2 separate regions of the Homo sapiens genome follow, and region 1 is linked to region 2. The links come from fine-mapping of genetic effects on gene expression. A gene starts in region 2. The other region holds a variant in brackets. All regions are shown on one strand. Distances are between the middles of the regions.

Region 1 (8,267 bases), 110 kb before region 2:
CCTTGAGCCATTTCCAGGCCTCAGTTTCCCCACCTGGTGGGGTGAGGAATGAATGGGTGGTTGGATCCAGCCTGACCTTAAGCAATCCTGGGAGACAAGGAGGGCTCGGAGCTGAGAGCCCAGGGTGGTAATGGGGTAGGAAAAGCGCTTCCTTGGGGTTGCTCCACCGACCCCAACCTTCATCCCGCCTCCTCCCAAGGTGATGATCAAGGCCTATCCTTGGGATGCAGGGACATTCAGCCTGGAGACCTTGGAGTCCTGGAGCTTCCTGGGGCTGTGGGGGTGGGGCGGGGCTGGGGGACGCAGTCTCACGGTCGGGTGCAGAGGCCTAGGTCGGCGGGGAAGGAGTTAACGGTTCTCCGCTTTATTATTTTTTCCTGCTTTGGCGGTGACAGCATTGTCTGGGCTCCGGGGCCGTGGGGGAACATGGTGGTGGAAGGGGGCGGAGGCCGGTAAGACCCCGGACTCGTTAAAGGGCCCTAGAGTCGGTCCTGGATCCAAACCCCATTCATGGTTTGGCGGTCTGGGGCGCAGGGAGCCTGCGTGTGCACAGGCTCGGGTCAGGACCCCACGGGGCCACCGCGGGCACCGCACGGACACCCCGACACACGAGCACCCACACCCCCAGACGGGCACCCGGAGACACGGGCGCCCAGCAGACGCAGGCAGGACGCGCTCAGACAAGGACACACAGACACCGCGGCGCGCGGCCACACGAGGCTCGGCCACCCGCCGCCACGCGTCCCCGGGGGGTCCCGCACCCGTCGCCGCGCGCCCGGCCCCGCCGCGCCCCGGTTACCTTCATGTCGTTGACTATGGCCTGGAAGAGCCCGCCCAGGGCGCCGCACTCCTTCTCCGCCGTCTCCATGCTCTGGCTGGGCCGGGCCGCGGCGGCGGCTAGGCGCACGGAGCGCGGGGAGCAGCGCAAGGGAGGGGGCCAGGCCGCGCGGGCGCTCGCTCCGAGGCCGGGCCGGGCCTCCCGCCTCCAGGCTGCGCTCAGCGGCCGGCCGCGCCGCGCTCCGGGGTCGCGGGCCTCCGGCGGGCGGCGCGGGCCATGTCGCAGCGGGGCTGGCGGGCGGCGCGGGGGGCGCGGCGCGGGCAGCTCGCGGCGCAGCCTCGGCGCGGGGACTGACGGCGGCGGTAATCCGAGCCGCCGAGGATCGGGCGTCACGTGGGCGCGGCGGAGGGGGGACCGCGAGGAGGGAGGGAAGGAGGGCGGGCCGCGCGGGAGGGGGCTGTGGGAACGGCCGCGCGGGCGCAGGCCCATTCACGGCCAGAAACCAGGGCTTTGAAATCCGAGCCCGGGCGCTGCCAGACTGGTCCGGCGAGCGGGGCCGACGGGCGCGGGCGCCACCGAGGGTCGGGGGGCGGCGCTGGGCGGGGCCCGCCCTGCCCACGCAGGAGCGGGACTGGCGGTTGGGCCTCGGCCCCCGGGCAGGGGCTCCACGATATCTTCTGGCCTTTGGTCTGGGGCGGGGGGCTTCTCGCGCTTCTAAAGACAGGCAGTGGGTACAGTGGCGGGATGGGGTCGGTGCATGGGCTGGATGGGTGGCATACACCGCACACAGCAGGGCGCGGGGTATCGTGGAGCCGCCCGCCTTGGGACGTTTCATCGCAGGCACAGACCTTCCTCAAGTTCGGACCCTTCCAAGTTCCTTGGCTCCTTCTCCAAGTGGTGCCGATGCCACCCGGATGGGGTGCCCAAGGCTGGGCATTTGGGGGGCAGTGGTAGTCTCCTGGGCCTTGAACAACCTCCTTCTTCGCGGGTGGGGGCTAATGTCGGACCTGCAGAGCAGAGCTGGAGTGTCCTTGGTCTCTGCTGCCTGAGTCCACGGTGGGTGCGATGCACACACGTGCATGGGGTAGCAATGTCAATCGCAGCCTGTCCTGGAGACTCCAGGCAGGGAAACCCACCCTGGGGGGCAGCACGATGGGGGAGCGCACTCTGGGGAAGAGCAGGCACAAGCTCCTTCTCGCCTACTCCATGGGCCGGAGGGAGCCAATTACAAGCTCATTAGGAGACCAAGCCCAGGGTTCCCAAAGCCTGGGGACAGGTGGTACCACTCCCGGTGAGGAAGGGCTTTCAGCTGCAGCAGTGGTTGGGGCACCTGCCCCTCCCTGGACTGCTCTGGGCTTTTCCTCCCCTTGCCCCGAGATCTGCAAAGTGTTCTGCAGTGTGCATTGCCCTTTCATCCAGGAACTCCTGGGGCTCAGCTCCCATGTCCCCAGTGGGGAACTCCCATTGCCCCAGGGAGTCAGGATGAGAAAGGCAGATTGGGGAAGGCAGGGTTCAGGATTCCAGGGCAGGCAGTGCATGGTGCTCTCCAGGAGGGTGCAGGTTCCAGAGGTGGGGACCTAGGCTCTAGGCCCATGGCTCCACTCAGGTGAGTGCAGGGACCAGGCCCTGGGGCAGCCAGTACTCCTTGGGGCCATCATGAAACCCGATCTCCAGGACAGAGGGTGAGGCCCCCGGACAGCTGCACGTGTCAGCTGGGAAGGAGCAGGCCGGCTCGGGTTGAGGGTTTTCTGTTATTTCTTTATTGGGGTGGGGGTGGGGTGCATCATTCAGATCTTTGTGCTGGTGCCTACGTGCATACAAGTACACACACACACACACACACACAGGCATGTGTTCACGTATGTATACATATACACACAAGGCCAGAGCTCTAGTGTGCTGGAGGAGGGGCAAGCTCTTTTTCCAAGAGGGTATTAGAAAGAGGTTGATTCCAGAGGATGAGTGGTCTCTGAGGCTATAGCCCCCCACTGGGTGGGCAGCCAGCTCTGTGAGAATGCCAGGGTGCAGCTGACAGCGCTGGAGGCCTGGGGACTGGACTCTGAGAGGAGCTTGGGCAGACACAGCAGCCTCCGGCCCCAACACTGCCCTGGGTTGGCAGGCCCAGCCCTGGTCCTGACAGGCAGGTCCTTGAGCTCCTCGGGAGGGCGTGACGACCCTTAGTGTTTCATGGGACCACTCGGTGGGCCCTCCTCCGTGCCAGGCCTGTCAGAGGACAACCCTCCGGTCCAGGTGGTCCCCACGCCCGCTCCGCTGGTGCCGCACTTCCAGGTGCTTGTTCTGGACCTTCTCAAAGTGCTGCAGCAGCTCTGCGTAGTCGATGCTAGGGGAGTCAGCTTTCTGGGACTTGGGGGCTGCCTTTAGACTGTCTCTGGGAAGAGGGAGCAGAAATGCTCAGTGTCAGGGATCAGCTCACAGGGGGGTTACTGCTGGAGGGCAGTGGGGTCAGAGGCAGAGCCACAGGCTGGTGGGCTCGGCCTGTGGGCGTCTGTCTCAGGCCTGGCAACTCTTCCGTCATGGCGGGCCCCAGAGCTGGGAAGCCCCTGAGCATCCCCCTCTTCCGCAGTTGGTGGGAACAGCTAACACTGCTGCTTGGCTATTGCCCTCGGCCTGTGGGCTGGCGATGGCGCCCAGAGCAGGCATCGCATTGGGAAGCATTTCCTGTTTACGAGTGGCTCCCTTTGGGGTGAAAGCCAGGGCTAGCAGCCAGCCAGGAAGCCAGCTGGGGCCTGGAACAGGGTCTGGGGAGAAGGGGGAGGTGGCAGCTTGGCCCTTTCTCTGAGAGGCAGGGCTAGGACTGGGGAAAATGGGAATTGCTGAAGAGCCTCTGCCGGGCCCTCCACTTGGCAGGACATTTGTTTTTGAGTGTTGGGGCCCCAAGGCCTGCAGTCACTCACTGTCCCTGGGAGGAGGAATGCCGGTCTCACCACTGGACATGCCTACAGCTCCTACATTCCTGTTGCTGCCACCCTCTCCAGTTGCTCTGTACAGCAACACAGGTTGTGCACTGCACAGCTAGTGTGCATGATGCTCCCTATAATGGTGCAATGCGGTAGCCTTGCTGTCCCTGTCAAGCCCAGTGCTTAGCTTGCCCCTGGCGATGAGATCCCCTTGGGCTCCTGTCCTGTTCCTACTCACCCTCCAGCAGTGTCTCATGAAATGTTCTGCTCCCTCCCTTTGGCCTCACTGGTTTGGAGGAGCAGATCCATGTGGGCTAGGAAGTATCTGTTTCCAGGCCCTGAGGCCTGGTGGACCTGGGAAGGGGTCTCAGGAAGACTGTGGGCTGCTCAGCTAAGCAGAGAGTCTTGGGGCCCTTCAAGTTTATGAAAAGATGCCAATCGGCGGGGCCGGGAAGGGGGGTGCAGGCACTGGCAGAGCACAGGATCTAGACAGACCTGGACCCAACCATAACTCCACCGCTTCCTAGCGGTGTGACTTGAGCATGTGACTGTTTCCTCATCTGCAAAGCGAGGGCTACCTAAGGAGCGGCCCTGGGGTGGCTGCCAAGATGCCTTGACACGATGTGTAAGAGCTTCACCTGGTATCCAGCCCCAGCTTAGGTATCTGGCAGGTGCCACTGTGGCTACAGTTCTGCCCCTCCAACGTGAGGCCAGCCGGGGCCCAGCAGCTTGAGGGTGGAAATAAAGGAGGCCATTTTGGGGGAGACAAAAAGGAGCTCCCCCAAAACGAACTCTTGGCCATGAGTTCAGTCCAGCAGGAAGAGTCAACGGCCAGAGCCTGACAGTTGCTTCAGGTGGCCACCAGCCTGCTGGGCAGGACCAGGGCAGGGGGACTCTTCCCACAGTTGAGATGCCATCTGGGGCCCGGAGGCGGCCTCCTGCACCCCTGCTCAGCTCTGCCTGCCCACACCTGTTCCCTTCCCGCCTCCCTGCTGAAGATGCACCACCAGAAAACATCTTGGACATGTCTACGGCTGCGGCTGCTGCTTTTCTGGGCCTGGCGCTCCTGGCTCCCTAGCGGGGCTCAGCTGACTTTAGTTCAACAAAGATCAAAAGCAGCTGGGCGGGGCCATTCTAGAGGGCCAGGCTGTGGGCAGTGTTCTAGGCTGTGGTTGCTACTGGGAAGGGACCTCCCAGGCACAGTAACCTTGGGAACCAGGTGCCACTGCTCCAAGAGAGCAGCTTGGACTTCTAAGGAGGCCAAGGGCCACCCCGGAGCTTGCAGCCCTAAGTCCAGGGTGTGGCCAGACGCTCCTCTAACCCACTTAGGCCAAGGCCACAGGTGTGACCCTAAAGTGTGTCTTCTGATGCTGGGCACCCACAGGTCTGTGCGTTGCTCCCC[A/G]TGACACTCCTGGCAAGCCAAGGCCTTAGGTTAGGGGAGCTTAGGGGCCTTTAGAGAGATGCTCTCAGCACTGGATGGCAAACCCGGGAAGATGGCGTCGGTGTGGCAGGGTTGGTCGGGGTGGGAAGAGTGGGCCACATCTGCTCCCTGGGCCCTTAGGGTGGCAAGAAGTCCTGCTCCCTGTGATGGGCAGACCCTTCCTGGCCTGAGATCTTGGGAGCAGGGCGGGCTGTGTCACCGGGGGTGGGTGACACTGCCTGGGCTGCTGAGCACAGAGGCCAGGCCCGCTCTCCCTGCCCCACCTAATGCAGATGGCTGCTCTCAGGCCCTGCACATCTTCTGTAGGTCCATAACCACCCTCGGGCACCGAGGCTGAGGCCAGCCAGCCCACAGCACAGTGTGGCAAGTCCAGGACTCAGGGCCGGCTCTCACTCTTGCCATCCCACCCATGCACCTGTTGCCAGCTTTTTCTTAGAGGTTCCCTCCTGCCTTACTGAGGAGACAGTCACTGGGGAGTGGCCCAGAAGCCAGGGGGTGGGGGAGCTGAGGTCCCCAGGGCCTTGATGGCACTTGGAGCACACAGAACCAGGGATGGGCGAGGAGTGTACAAAACTCTCCCAGCTGTTCCCAGCTCCAAGGCCTGCCCCGCAACTCGACCCTGTCTGCCAGCTGTCTGCCCCTCCCAGGGCTGGGACTGTCCTCAGCTCCCTTCCCAGGGTGTGAGCCGTCCTCTGGGCCCCACCCTGCAATCTGACCCCTCCCCCAGCTGTTCTGAAGTCCCCTGGCATGCCCACTGCTTCTGTGCCCCTATCTATGGTATCTCTTCCTAGGTCGTTGCAAAGTAAGGCTGGGGGTCCAGGGCATTGAAGGCTAGGGGGTGTCTCACACACCCATTTAGTCCAAATGTGCATTTACTGACCAAGTAACCAAGAACCCAGAGAGGGCACTGGGCTTGCTGGAGGTCACACAACAAATCCATGGCAGAGCTCACACCAGATCCTACTCTAGGCCTGCAAAGCATCCACTGACCCTCAGAATCTTCTACCCAGAGGCCTCAACCCCTTGGCTCAAGACTTCCCTGACTGACCGTGGGAGATTCTGAGGAAAGCCTCATTTTCCCAGCTTCCCTCTGCAAACTTGTTCTACCCTGGTTTGAGGAGTCTGACTGCTCTGAGCCTCTGCTCCCCTCCCAAGACGAGGAGATCAGCACTCGGAGACCCGGGAGAGGCTGGGCTGGCTCCCTGGCCAGGAGGACTCCCAGGAAGGCAGGCTGGTTCCCACAGGGAGACTGGAGGTCACAGGGAAGCAGCCCTTCCTGCCTCCTCCCTGCTTCCGGCTGCACCTTCCCCTCCTGGGTGCCTGCCAGGTTGACCCTAACACTATGGGGCGTTGAAGGGCCAAGGCAAAGGCTGGGCCAGCAAGGCCCGGTGTGGCTTCTAGGCCTCTCTCGGAGTCTCTCGGGAGCTGACAGCACTCCGGCCCCAGGAACCCACACATGCGCCCCCGCTCCATGGCTGACCCTGCTCCCCTGGGGACACTGCATCAGGTGCTGTCTTCTGGGGACCACCTGGCAGCACCCTGAGCAGCTGGGGTGGCAACCGGCTCAAGGCCTAGTCCTGCCACTGCAGGGCACTGCCTTCTGGGGAAATGGGGCAGGGAAGGCACGAGCCGGTCTTGGTTGGGGCCACACTTTCTAGGGGTTCAGCCTCTCCAGCTGGCCTGGGGCAGAGAGCCTATCAGGTGCCCCACACTCAGCCATCCGAGGGCCAGTCTGGGTGGGAGGGGCAGTGGGAGCCGATGCCAGCGGTGTGGAGGGCACAGGGCCTCCGGGCAGGCCTGTCTCAAGGCTGCCTGTGTCCATCGCAAAGGCGAGCACCCGAGGCCCTTTGCTGGAGCAAGGCGCCAGGCCTGCTGAGTGGCTCTAACAGCCTGGGAGGGAATTCTAGACACACAGGGCATCTGATGCAAGCTGGGCGCGCTCCATTCAGCGTAAATCTTCTCAGTGGCTCTGCTGGTTTCCATGGCGACCTGACAAGTGAAATTTTCCATCTCGGATGCCAAATGCCTGTGGATGAGGCAAAGCCTCCAAGGGTTACCAAATATAGATGCAGCCCTACAGGCTCTGGGGTAGGGGCCAGCCGTGGGTTCAGGGTGGGAGCCGGCACTCCTCTGACCAGAGGCTGCCAAGCTGGGCCTCTTGGTGGAGGGGTGCCTAGGACCTGTTCCTTCCATGGGCAGGACCTGAGCAGGGGAGCCTTGAGTGTACCCCTGCCTCCCACCCCACCCCGGAAGTGGCTGAGAAGGTCCTAGCAATGATGGGGTCTCCCAGTGACCCAGGGTTGAGCCTCTGCCACAGACAGGGTGGGGAGGGGCTATGTGAGGCCTGGGAGGTGCCCAGCACAGACAGCCACTGGGGCCCCCATCTCTAAGCTGGGGCAGGAACTCCTCCCCCTGCCCGGTGTTTCTCTCCAGGGTCCTCTGTCTGGGTAACTCCAGATGCCCTCAGAGTTTTTAGATTTTGCATAGCCTCACTGAGCTGGACCCTGATTGCCTGGAAGTGTTGCTACTCCCGGCCACCGTGTGAGGGCTCCCAGAATCCCTTGCTCGGTGCTCTGATGTGGACACAAGAGGCCAAGGGGCAAGTGGCTGCGGGGGGGATGGTGGTCACAGTGACAAAAGGGGTGGGATGCTGAAGTGAGGGAGGCCTCAGCAGCCCCTGGCAAGGCCCTTCCTCACCAGGCTCCTCTGGGCCTGTCCCTGCTCAGGGGGCGGGGGCAGCAGTCCCCAGCCGGCACTCACTCGGTCTGCAGCAGCTCAGGGTTGGGCACGCACTGGAGCCGGTGCGAGAGCAGCTGGAAGGCGCTGCTCTGCGGCAGGAGCATGAGCAGGCCGTAGAGGGCCTTGATCAGGTAGGGGTTGTTCTTCACGTCCAGCAGCTGCAGGCGCAGATCTGGGGTAGGCAGAGGGCAGGGGTCAGGGACCTGGCACTGCTCTGGGACACGCCCAGCCCACACTGCCTGCCTCCGACTGGCCAGGACCACCTGGGACTTGGTGCCATGGCACCCACAGCCCAAGGACCCAGCTGTGTGGACCCAGCCAGGTGGCTGTGGCTTCCAGCGAGTCAGGGGCTCCTTCACAGCCAGTCGCGCTGCCCCCACCTCCCCCAGGA
Region 2 (8,280 bases):
AATCTCTTTTCTTTATAAATTACCCAGTCTCAGGTATTTGTTTATAGCAGAGCAAGAACAGACTAACACAGCACTTTACAACATTAGCTCAAACAACTCTATGCATATTATTATTATGCTCTTTTTACAGATGAAGAAATTGAGGCACAGAGGTTAATTAGCTTGCTCAGGGTCACCTAGCCAGTAAATGGGAGCTTGAACCCCAGTTCCAGAGCCTGCTCTTAAACACCATGCCACGCAGCCTCTCAGGAAATAGGGTATCTTAAAGGGGCAACTTACCTAAGAACAGGACTAAGCACTTTCATTTAGGGAGCACATGAACTGACTCATTTACACTACATAGATAACTGCCAATATTCGGACTCTTCTTTTGTTGGGCATCTGCAGTCTGATTAATGAGAGATTAATTAATAGTCTGTGTTTGCTGAGGGTCACTTTGACCAGGCCAAATGAAGAATATATTAAAACATACAATATCCTATGTGTACCTGACACATAGAAAGTGCTCAGACAAGCAAAATGCTGGTGCTGGTGAAGCACAGATAAGTAAGTCAGTATCTATCTCTAAGCAATTTGTGAAGCATATGTTCTGAGGAAGGCATTGAACTAACCAGCCATTCTTCATTCTAAGCATGACTGGAGAAGGTTGGAAACAGATGAGAGGGTCTTTGAGGCCAGTGCTTCTCAAACTTTAATGTGCACACAAATCACCCAGGGATCTTGTTAAAATGCAGATTCTGATTCCATAGGTCTGGAGCAAAGCTGCAGAGCCTCTAACAAGCTCCCAGGTGATCCTGATGCTGCTGTCTGTAGGCCACGCTTTTGGGCAGCAAGGTCCTGAGCCTGCAATGTTATTTCCCCACCGAAAATGTACGGTCATTCATTTATTCGGACACCAGCTGTCAAGTGCTGCCAGGCTAAGTGCTAAGGATAAATAAAACAGATACATAAACAGAACTCTCTGCTCTTAAGGAGTTCACAGTCAAGGCACTGCTGAGTTTCTCTAAATTCCACAAATCAAGGGCAATGTCCAATACAAAATGAACTCGATCAAAGACAAAACCCTTACAGAACTGTGTGCAGAGTGAGAACAGATACACAGGTTGCGCTGGAAGCAACAATAATGTTGAGATGAATACCTCTCTCTTCAAGGACTCAACAGACGACTCAAGCTACAATAAAACCGGATATTCCTGAGAAGCAGAGTGGGTGAGGGACAAAACTAGGTGTCAAGGCAACTTCAAAGCCAACAAAACCCCATGGACACGGAACCATGCCTATATATCATTTCTGGGTCCCTCTATTCAGTATGGCAATGTGCAATAAGACTTGCTAGCATTCGTGAGAGTCAGGCATAAACAAAAAGCTATATAAAAGGAGCAGTCAAGAAAGTGGTGTCTGATGAGAGAAGCAGCTAGATGGTTGTGGACATACTGAGTATGAGAGCTGAATGGAGGCAGGGTGGGGGATTTCTTATCAAGGTCCGAACCCTTTAGTTTAGGAGGAAACTAAAATCCAAAGCAACATTTGATTTGGATTGCAAGCAGCAGTTGTCAACCGGGGCAATTTTGCTCCTTCAGGGGACATTTAGCAATGTCTGAAGACATTTTTGATTGTTACAACGGATGGAGTGCTACTGGCATCCAGTGGGAAGAGGTCAGAGACGCTGTTAAAAATCCTGCAAGGCACAGGACAGCCCACTACAACCAAAAATCATCTGCCCCAAAATGTGAATGGTGCAGAGGCTGAGAAACCCTGAGTTAAGGAATTTGCCCCAGGTTAACGAATGAATGTCACACCACGGAATAGATTAGAGCAGTCCAATAGAGCATTCTGCAATGATGGAAACAGTCTATAATCTGTGCTGCCCTATATAGCAGCCAATAGCTACATGTGGCTATTGAACACTTGAAATACGGGTAGTGTGACTGAGAAACTAAAGTTTAATCTTTAATAATTTAAATTTATAATAGCTACGCACGGCCAACGGCTACTCTACTGGACAGAACAGAAATACAATTCACCTTTTCTGACTCGCAGACTGGTATTCTTCCAGTTTCACAGCCTGCTTCTTTCCAATTTTCTGAAATCACTCACTCACTTGACTTTAACACTAAAATGTGACTGGGAAAAAACCCACAAAAGTAAAATAATACTGCAGAAAAAAAAATAAATAAAACATCCCCAGTTAAACTTTCGCTGTTTTGTACATTGGGAAATAAAGTAAAATATCAGATCATTGTTACACATACATGTAACAAGACTGCAGAAGCAAGAAAGGTCAAATTATTTCTACTTCCACTTGCAGGGAAGGGTGTTATAACACAGATAAAACAAAAAACTCTCTGAGCCTTGAGATCACGAGTTTTCCGACCTGATTTCTCTACTTGGTCACTAACAATCTCCTTCACTTCTCAGAAGCTGGGTAAGAAACCAGGCTGGTCAGCATCACCTGCAAATTCTCCGGCTTCTGACTTCTCTCTCACCACAGAGACAACTCTCTGATTTGCTGGTTTGGGTGGCACCGCACCGAAGACTCACCATGTGCCATGCACTGTGCAAAGCACTACCCATACATGATGTCACTTCATTCTCACTGCAGCCCTTTGTGGCACCGGGAGGTTAAAAAGCTGGGACCAAATCACACAGCCAGTCAGGAGTAAAGCAGGGACTCCCAGATATGGCTCCCAATCTGCTCTTAAACACTGCGCTAAGGTAAGGGCCTAAAACCTGGGAAAGTAACCCTGGCTGGGAAGGCGTGAGAAGTCCCCCTGGGGAGCAGAGCAGTCAGGGGCTGCATAGCCAGGGAGGGGTCCTGGCGGCTCTTACTTCTCGATCTCCAGCGCTGCCACCTTCCGCTTTTCGTACAGCTTGTCATTGAGGGCGCGCACGATGTTAGGCGTGAGCGGCGCGAAATCCTTCTCGGGGTTCATGGTGGCAGCTGGGGGAACCTCGCGACTCCTTAGCCCGCGGCTGCCGGGGCCGCGCCGGGGCCAGGGGAGTCTGCGGCTCCGCTCTGCCCCCGGCGCCGGCGCATGGACCACGCCGCTCTAGGCTTGCCTGCCACGCTCCGCCGCCTCGCCCTGGAACCCGGGCCCGGACCCCGCTCCAGCACACCTGACCCTGGCCGCTTAACAACTCCCGCCCGGCACTAGCGGGACTCACGAGACAGCGGCCATGTTACTCGAGTCACATGACTCTACAGCACTTCCGCCTTCCGTCGCGAGGGCCCGCCCCTCTCCAGCCACGCCCCCACCGCAGGCCGCAGGTGGATTGGCCACGCCCTCGGAAGGCTCCACCCACACTGCACACACTATCGCGCTGCGCGCCAGGTAGCTGGAGTGTGGTTTGAGACGTGCTTTAATGGGTGTGTAGCTCACGCCCAACTGATGGCACGTGGTGGGCTTCTGTAGACGTTCGTAAGACCGAATGGGTTCTTGGAGTCTGATTCACTTAACATAATTTATTCAATAGTCACCGAATTCACTAGTTCATTCAGTAGTTGGTCACTTACCAATTTCCTAGATGCAGACGTTTCCCTAACTGCAGTAACACTGTCATCACTTTCACCATATTCTAGCCACTTGTATTATCTATTTAATGTTTTCCTCAAATCAACTCACTTTAAAAAATACCTTAAATCTCTTTTAGCTTTGCTTATGCCCTAAAACCATGAGTTTGAATAGGTATATTTTTTCTAAGACACATCAAAATAAATTCTCAATTAAAAATGGCACTACCTGTCTACCACCTAAGATCTCAGGTACCACCAGTGTCTGTCACTCCACCATTTGGGGGTGTGTTTAACATGCTCTGATGCCTAGGAGGGCTGGTTACAGACAGAGAGAAAGGCCCCAGATCTGCTGAGTGCGGGTCTCTAGATAGGTCCCCTGGAAAGCAGCCCCTTCAGCTGCTTCGGGAATCACATTACATGGTGAGACAGAAATCCCAACTATGTGGCAAAATATTTAAAAGCAATTTATGGCCGGAGTGTGGTAAACATGCAGTTAACAGGGAGGTGCATCAGCCTTTCCTATCATAAGCTTTCAGAGTGAACAGGGACTTAGGACAAGGGCTAGATTACAGTGGAGCTCAAAGAATAACAGTTTCAGAATGCATGGTGATACTTTTCTTTAATGAATGAAAAGTGCATATATAGGCCTTATAACAGTCTTGAAAATGGAGTATTTTCCTCAACAGAAACAGGGACGCAATGAGTAAAGGGCAAAAGTAGGCAGAATTCTAGGATGACCTCCAATATTCCCACCCCTTCGTGTTCATGCCCTGTATTATGCCCTCTTTCAGCGTGAACAAGACTTGTAAATATGATGGGCTATGCATCACTCACATGATTATATTATGTAATATCGCAGAAGAGATTTTGCAGATGTAATTAAGGTCCCTAATCAGCAGACATTGAATTAATAAAAAGAGAGATTAACTTGAGTCGGCCTGACCGAATCAAGTGAGTACTTAAAAGAGATTAGAAGAAATTTGAACTGGAAGAGAGACTCTCCTGTAAGGAGTTTAGTCATATGGCCACAAAGGAATGAATTTTGCCAACACATTGAGGGTCCTTGGAAGCAGATCTTTCCCTAGTTGAGCCTCCTGATGAGGATGCAGCTGGCCAGCACCTTGATTTCAGCCTTGTGGAACCCTGAGCTGAGAATCCAGTTCACACTGGGCTCTCAACCCATGGAAACTGTGAGATAATAAATTTGTGTTGTTTTGCTCTCCTAGTTTTGTGGTAATTTGTTATGCAGCCATAGAAAATGAATACAAAGGCTAATCCAAAACTCGGCAAGTCATGGATATATCATGTCTAGAAAAATCCATAAAAAATGTATTCTCCTATACAGGTGGGGTTTTCATAGTTGTTAAAACCTTTGCTGACACAATCCTATGAATGAAGGTAGGTGCGCTAACAAGTAGTAGTAGTGCTGCCAAGGACATCTCCAAATGTCTTGCAAAGTTTGGTTTTAGGATTTTGATGATGGTTGATGAAAAACACTGAAAAAATGTAAATCAATGGGAATGATTTGGTTCTATTTCTCCAATGTGTGTGCATTTCCACGGGACGCATATCTAATATATTTCATGTTTCTTTTGCTTTTTGGTTTGGCTTTTTCTTAGAGGTGAACTGAATTTCCCAAGGGTAATGATACAGTTTTTAATAATTCAAACAATAAGGAATTTTTTTTTTACCAGAAGTATTCTTTTCTCCTGAAATTATATTCTGGCTCAGGTTGCTAAGTAACCAGTTTTTTATTCAAGGCCCAGACCAATGCCTACCTTTAGGTCAGAAGTTCCTAGAAAGAAGTGGTTCTTTTCTCTAATATCTTGAAAAATGCCAACTAGGTAAGATTATTTATGCATAATTGAGCTAGCAGTGGTGGTAAAAATAAAGCCCAAAGGCTACCCTTGCCTTCCACCCTTGTTCCTCTTCTCTGACCTGTGACCATTCCTGTTGAAACTCTTCTAGACTAGGGGATAACTGATGTGCCTGACTGCATACTAGTCATTATTTCACAGTTACAATTCATCTGCATCTGTGTGATGCTTGGTTGTTATGCTAGAACTTGTAATAGTTCTGTAACAACTATTCATAATAGCTATTACAAGTATGTAAAAGTTATGACATAACTTGTAGCAAGAGGCTGCTGATGACATTGTAAGAAATTGTACCAAAATCTTGAACTGTGCAAAGCAGTTTCTCCAACAGCAATGTAATTGTAGCTGGAGTTTCAGGGCAACAGGGTTTAAGGTATTAGGTAGAGGTCTTGAAATGTAGCAGGCCCTCACCAATGTTACAGTATTGTCACCTCTGACTTGAGGCTCCTAAAGAAGTGGTTAGACTTAGCATGCCACACTCACTGGGGGCCCAGTGTGGAACGAGGCCAGGGAGCCCCATTCCCATGGTATTCTGTGCACAGTGCTCCTTGGAGTTCTGCCACACAGCTACCCTGACATTTTCTGAACATCCCCCAGTTAGAAGTCTCCTGGTCTGCTTTGCTGAGAATGGATTCTCCAATGTAACTTCCACAAGCATGTGTTGGAAGGGTTATTTTCATCAAGCCTGCTGTTAAGCTACTTTGCCATTCCAAATTTGCTAATATAAGACTATTTTGTTATTGTTTGAGGCTAAGGAAGCACGAGAAAAACCTAAAGGGAAGAAATGCACCCAATCTCAAACCAGCCTGGAAGAGGGTTCACACTGGGGCAGGATCTGAGCTTGGCTCTTGGTCCCAGGGAGAAGGAACTTCCTCCTCTCTCAGGGGCTAGGAGGATTTGGACCCTAGACTCAGTGGTGTTATAGGACCAACACGTTTGTGTGCCCACTGTGCAGTAACAGACCAATGCACAGAGACAGTGGGGATGCAGCAGAGAAAGTGATGATCAAAGGTCACTGAGTGATGAGATGGGAGGAGACCCTCAAATCCATCTCCCGGAAGAGTTCTGGACTGGGGTTTTTAAGGGGATCCTGGAGGGTGAAGGGCTGAAAAACCAGGTGACTGATTGGTTGGGTAAGACGGATGAAATCATCAGGATGTGGAAACCGCATTCTTTGGTGAATCAGCTTCTCGTGAGGTCCTTCAGATCAGCTGATGTCAGTTGTTTCACTGGTACACAGGACCAAGAATAAATATCTCAAACGGAAAACTTAACGTTTCCTAATGTTCAAGTTGTTATCTCCAGAGCATTGAGGGGAACTATGATCTTTAGCAGGGTCTACGTGATTCTGAAACAGCAGGCACCAAACAGCTATGAGGAAGCAGGTCTGAGCGCAGGCTGATCTAGTGATTAATGCTGAGTGTGCTGCAACCTGGGTTCGTTTTTGTTTCTCCCCCTCCCTTCTCCCTGATCACTTTTATAAAATGTATATGGACAGCTTCAGTGGCTTGGGGAAGCACTGGAACAGGTCTGAAGTTGGGGGAGTTGCCCCTAGCCACCCCAAGGCTGGCTATAAGCCATGCTGGGGCTGGTGGCATGTTAGACAAGATTTCAGACAGCTTCTTCCACCTTTTCTTTAGTCTTAGGGATCACTTGGTGTACCACATTGACCATTATTGAAAAAGTACACCCTTTTGAAGAGTAGGGTGAGGGACCAATTGCTTCCCTTCTCCTAACCTATACCTCTGGTGAATAGGTGGAAGGAGGCACATTTTGGGGAGGGTTAATTTCATCAACTAGGTCCTATGCAGATTTGGTAAGACTTCTCAGGACTGTAATGAAAGAGTTATGGCTGTGGGTTTGGCAAATGTCAAGTTTTGCCAGGTACCTTAAAGTAGCACTCTCAGCTGCAATGTGCATGCAAATCGCCTGGAGGTCCATGAAAATGCAGATTCTGATTCAACAAGTCTAGGGTGGGGCCTGAGGGCCTGCCTTTCTAACAAATTCCCAGGTGATGCTGATGCTGCAGGTCCATAGGCCACTCCGAATAACCAGGAGGCTCGAGGCTTTAGAGTCGTGGTTCTCACAGTCTGATTGGTCTCACCAACGAGCATCACCAAGAACTGGTTAGAAATGCAGATTCTCAAGCCCCACCCAAATCTCCTAGATCGGACTTCCTGAGGGTGGGGCTCAGCAATCTGTTTCAGTAAGCCCTCCAGGGGATGCTGATGTATACTAATATTTCAGAAGCACTGACTTTATACAGATGCTGTATATTTGCAAGTCATCACTCTTGCTCATTGATCTTAGCATCCTCTCAGATTATTGGTCAGAGCGATCTTTGCTCACTTAACCATTGTGAAAATCTGTCATCTGGTTGTCTTTAGACCTATCAGTAGTGTCTTTAGAGGTTATAGAAATAAATTGTCTATTGAGTATGGCAGTCCTCCTCATCTATGGCTTCAGTTACCTGTGGTCAACTGTGGAATGAAAATATTTAATGAAAAATTCCAGAAATAAAAAATTCATACTTTTTAAATGGCATGCTGTTCTGAATAACTTGAGGAAATCTCATGCCATCCCACTCCATCCTGCTCAGGATGTGAATCATCCCCTCGTCTAGCGTATGCATGCTGTAGACACAACCTACTTGATAGTCACTGAGTAGATGACTTGGGGTTAGCAGGTCAACTGTCATGGGATCGCAATGCTTGTGTTCAAGGAAACCTTATTTAGTTTAATAATGGCCCCAAAGCACATGGGTAGTGATGCTGGCATATTATTATAATTATTACATTTTATTATTATTATTGTTAATGTCTTACTGTGCCTAATTTATAAATTAATCAAAGGTATGTATGTAAAGGAAAATACCACAGTATATGGAGT

The links. PIP is the estimated chance that this variant, and not a neighbour inherited with it, causes the effect.
Region 1: its variant is fine-mapped to the expression of VAC14 in whole blood (TOPMed, PIP above 0.99).

What each region holds. Positions count from the first base shown.
Region 1 is chr16:70,684,924-70,693,190 of GRCh38, forward strand. It overlaps MTSS2 (MTSS I-BAR domain containing 2), which reads right to left and starts at 1,130. Exons shown (of 15, transcript NM_138383.3): 1 at 800-1,130. The coding sequence starts at 868. VAC14 (VAC14 component of PIKFYVE complex) reads right to left here. Exons shown (of 19, transcript NM_018052.5): 18 at 7,898-8,048; 19 at 2,516-3,167. The coding sequence ends at 3,005. RefSeq lists enhancers at 2,658-3,164, 7,263-8,090, 8,091-8,267. The variant A/G (reference allele first, on the strand shown) is at 5,099.
Region 2 is chr16:70,797,968-70,806,247 of GRCh38, forward strand. It overlaps VAC14 (VAC14 component of PIKFYVE complex), which reads right to left and starts at 3,191. Exons shown (of 19, transcript NM_018052.5): 1 at 2,830-3,191. The coding sequence starts at 2,933. It overlaps HYDIN (HYDIN axonemal central pair apparatus protein), which reads right to left. Exons shown (of 86, transcript NM_001270974.2): 86 at 4,117-8,280. RefSeq lists enhancers at 2,877-3,499, 3,167-3,226 and a silencer at 2,897-3,086.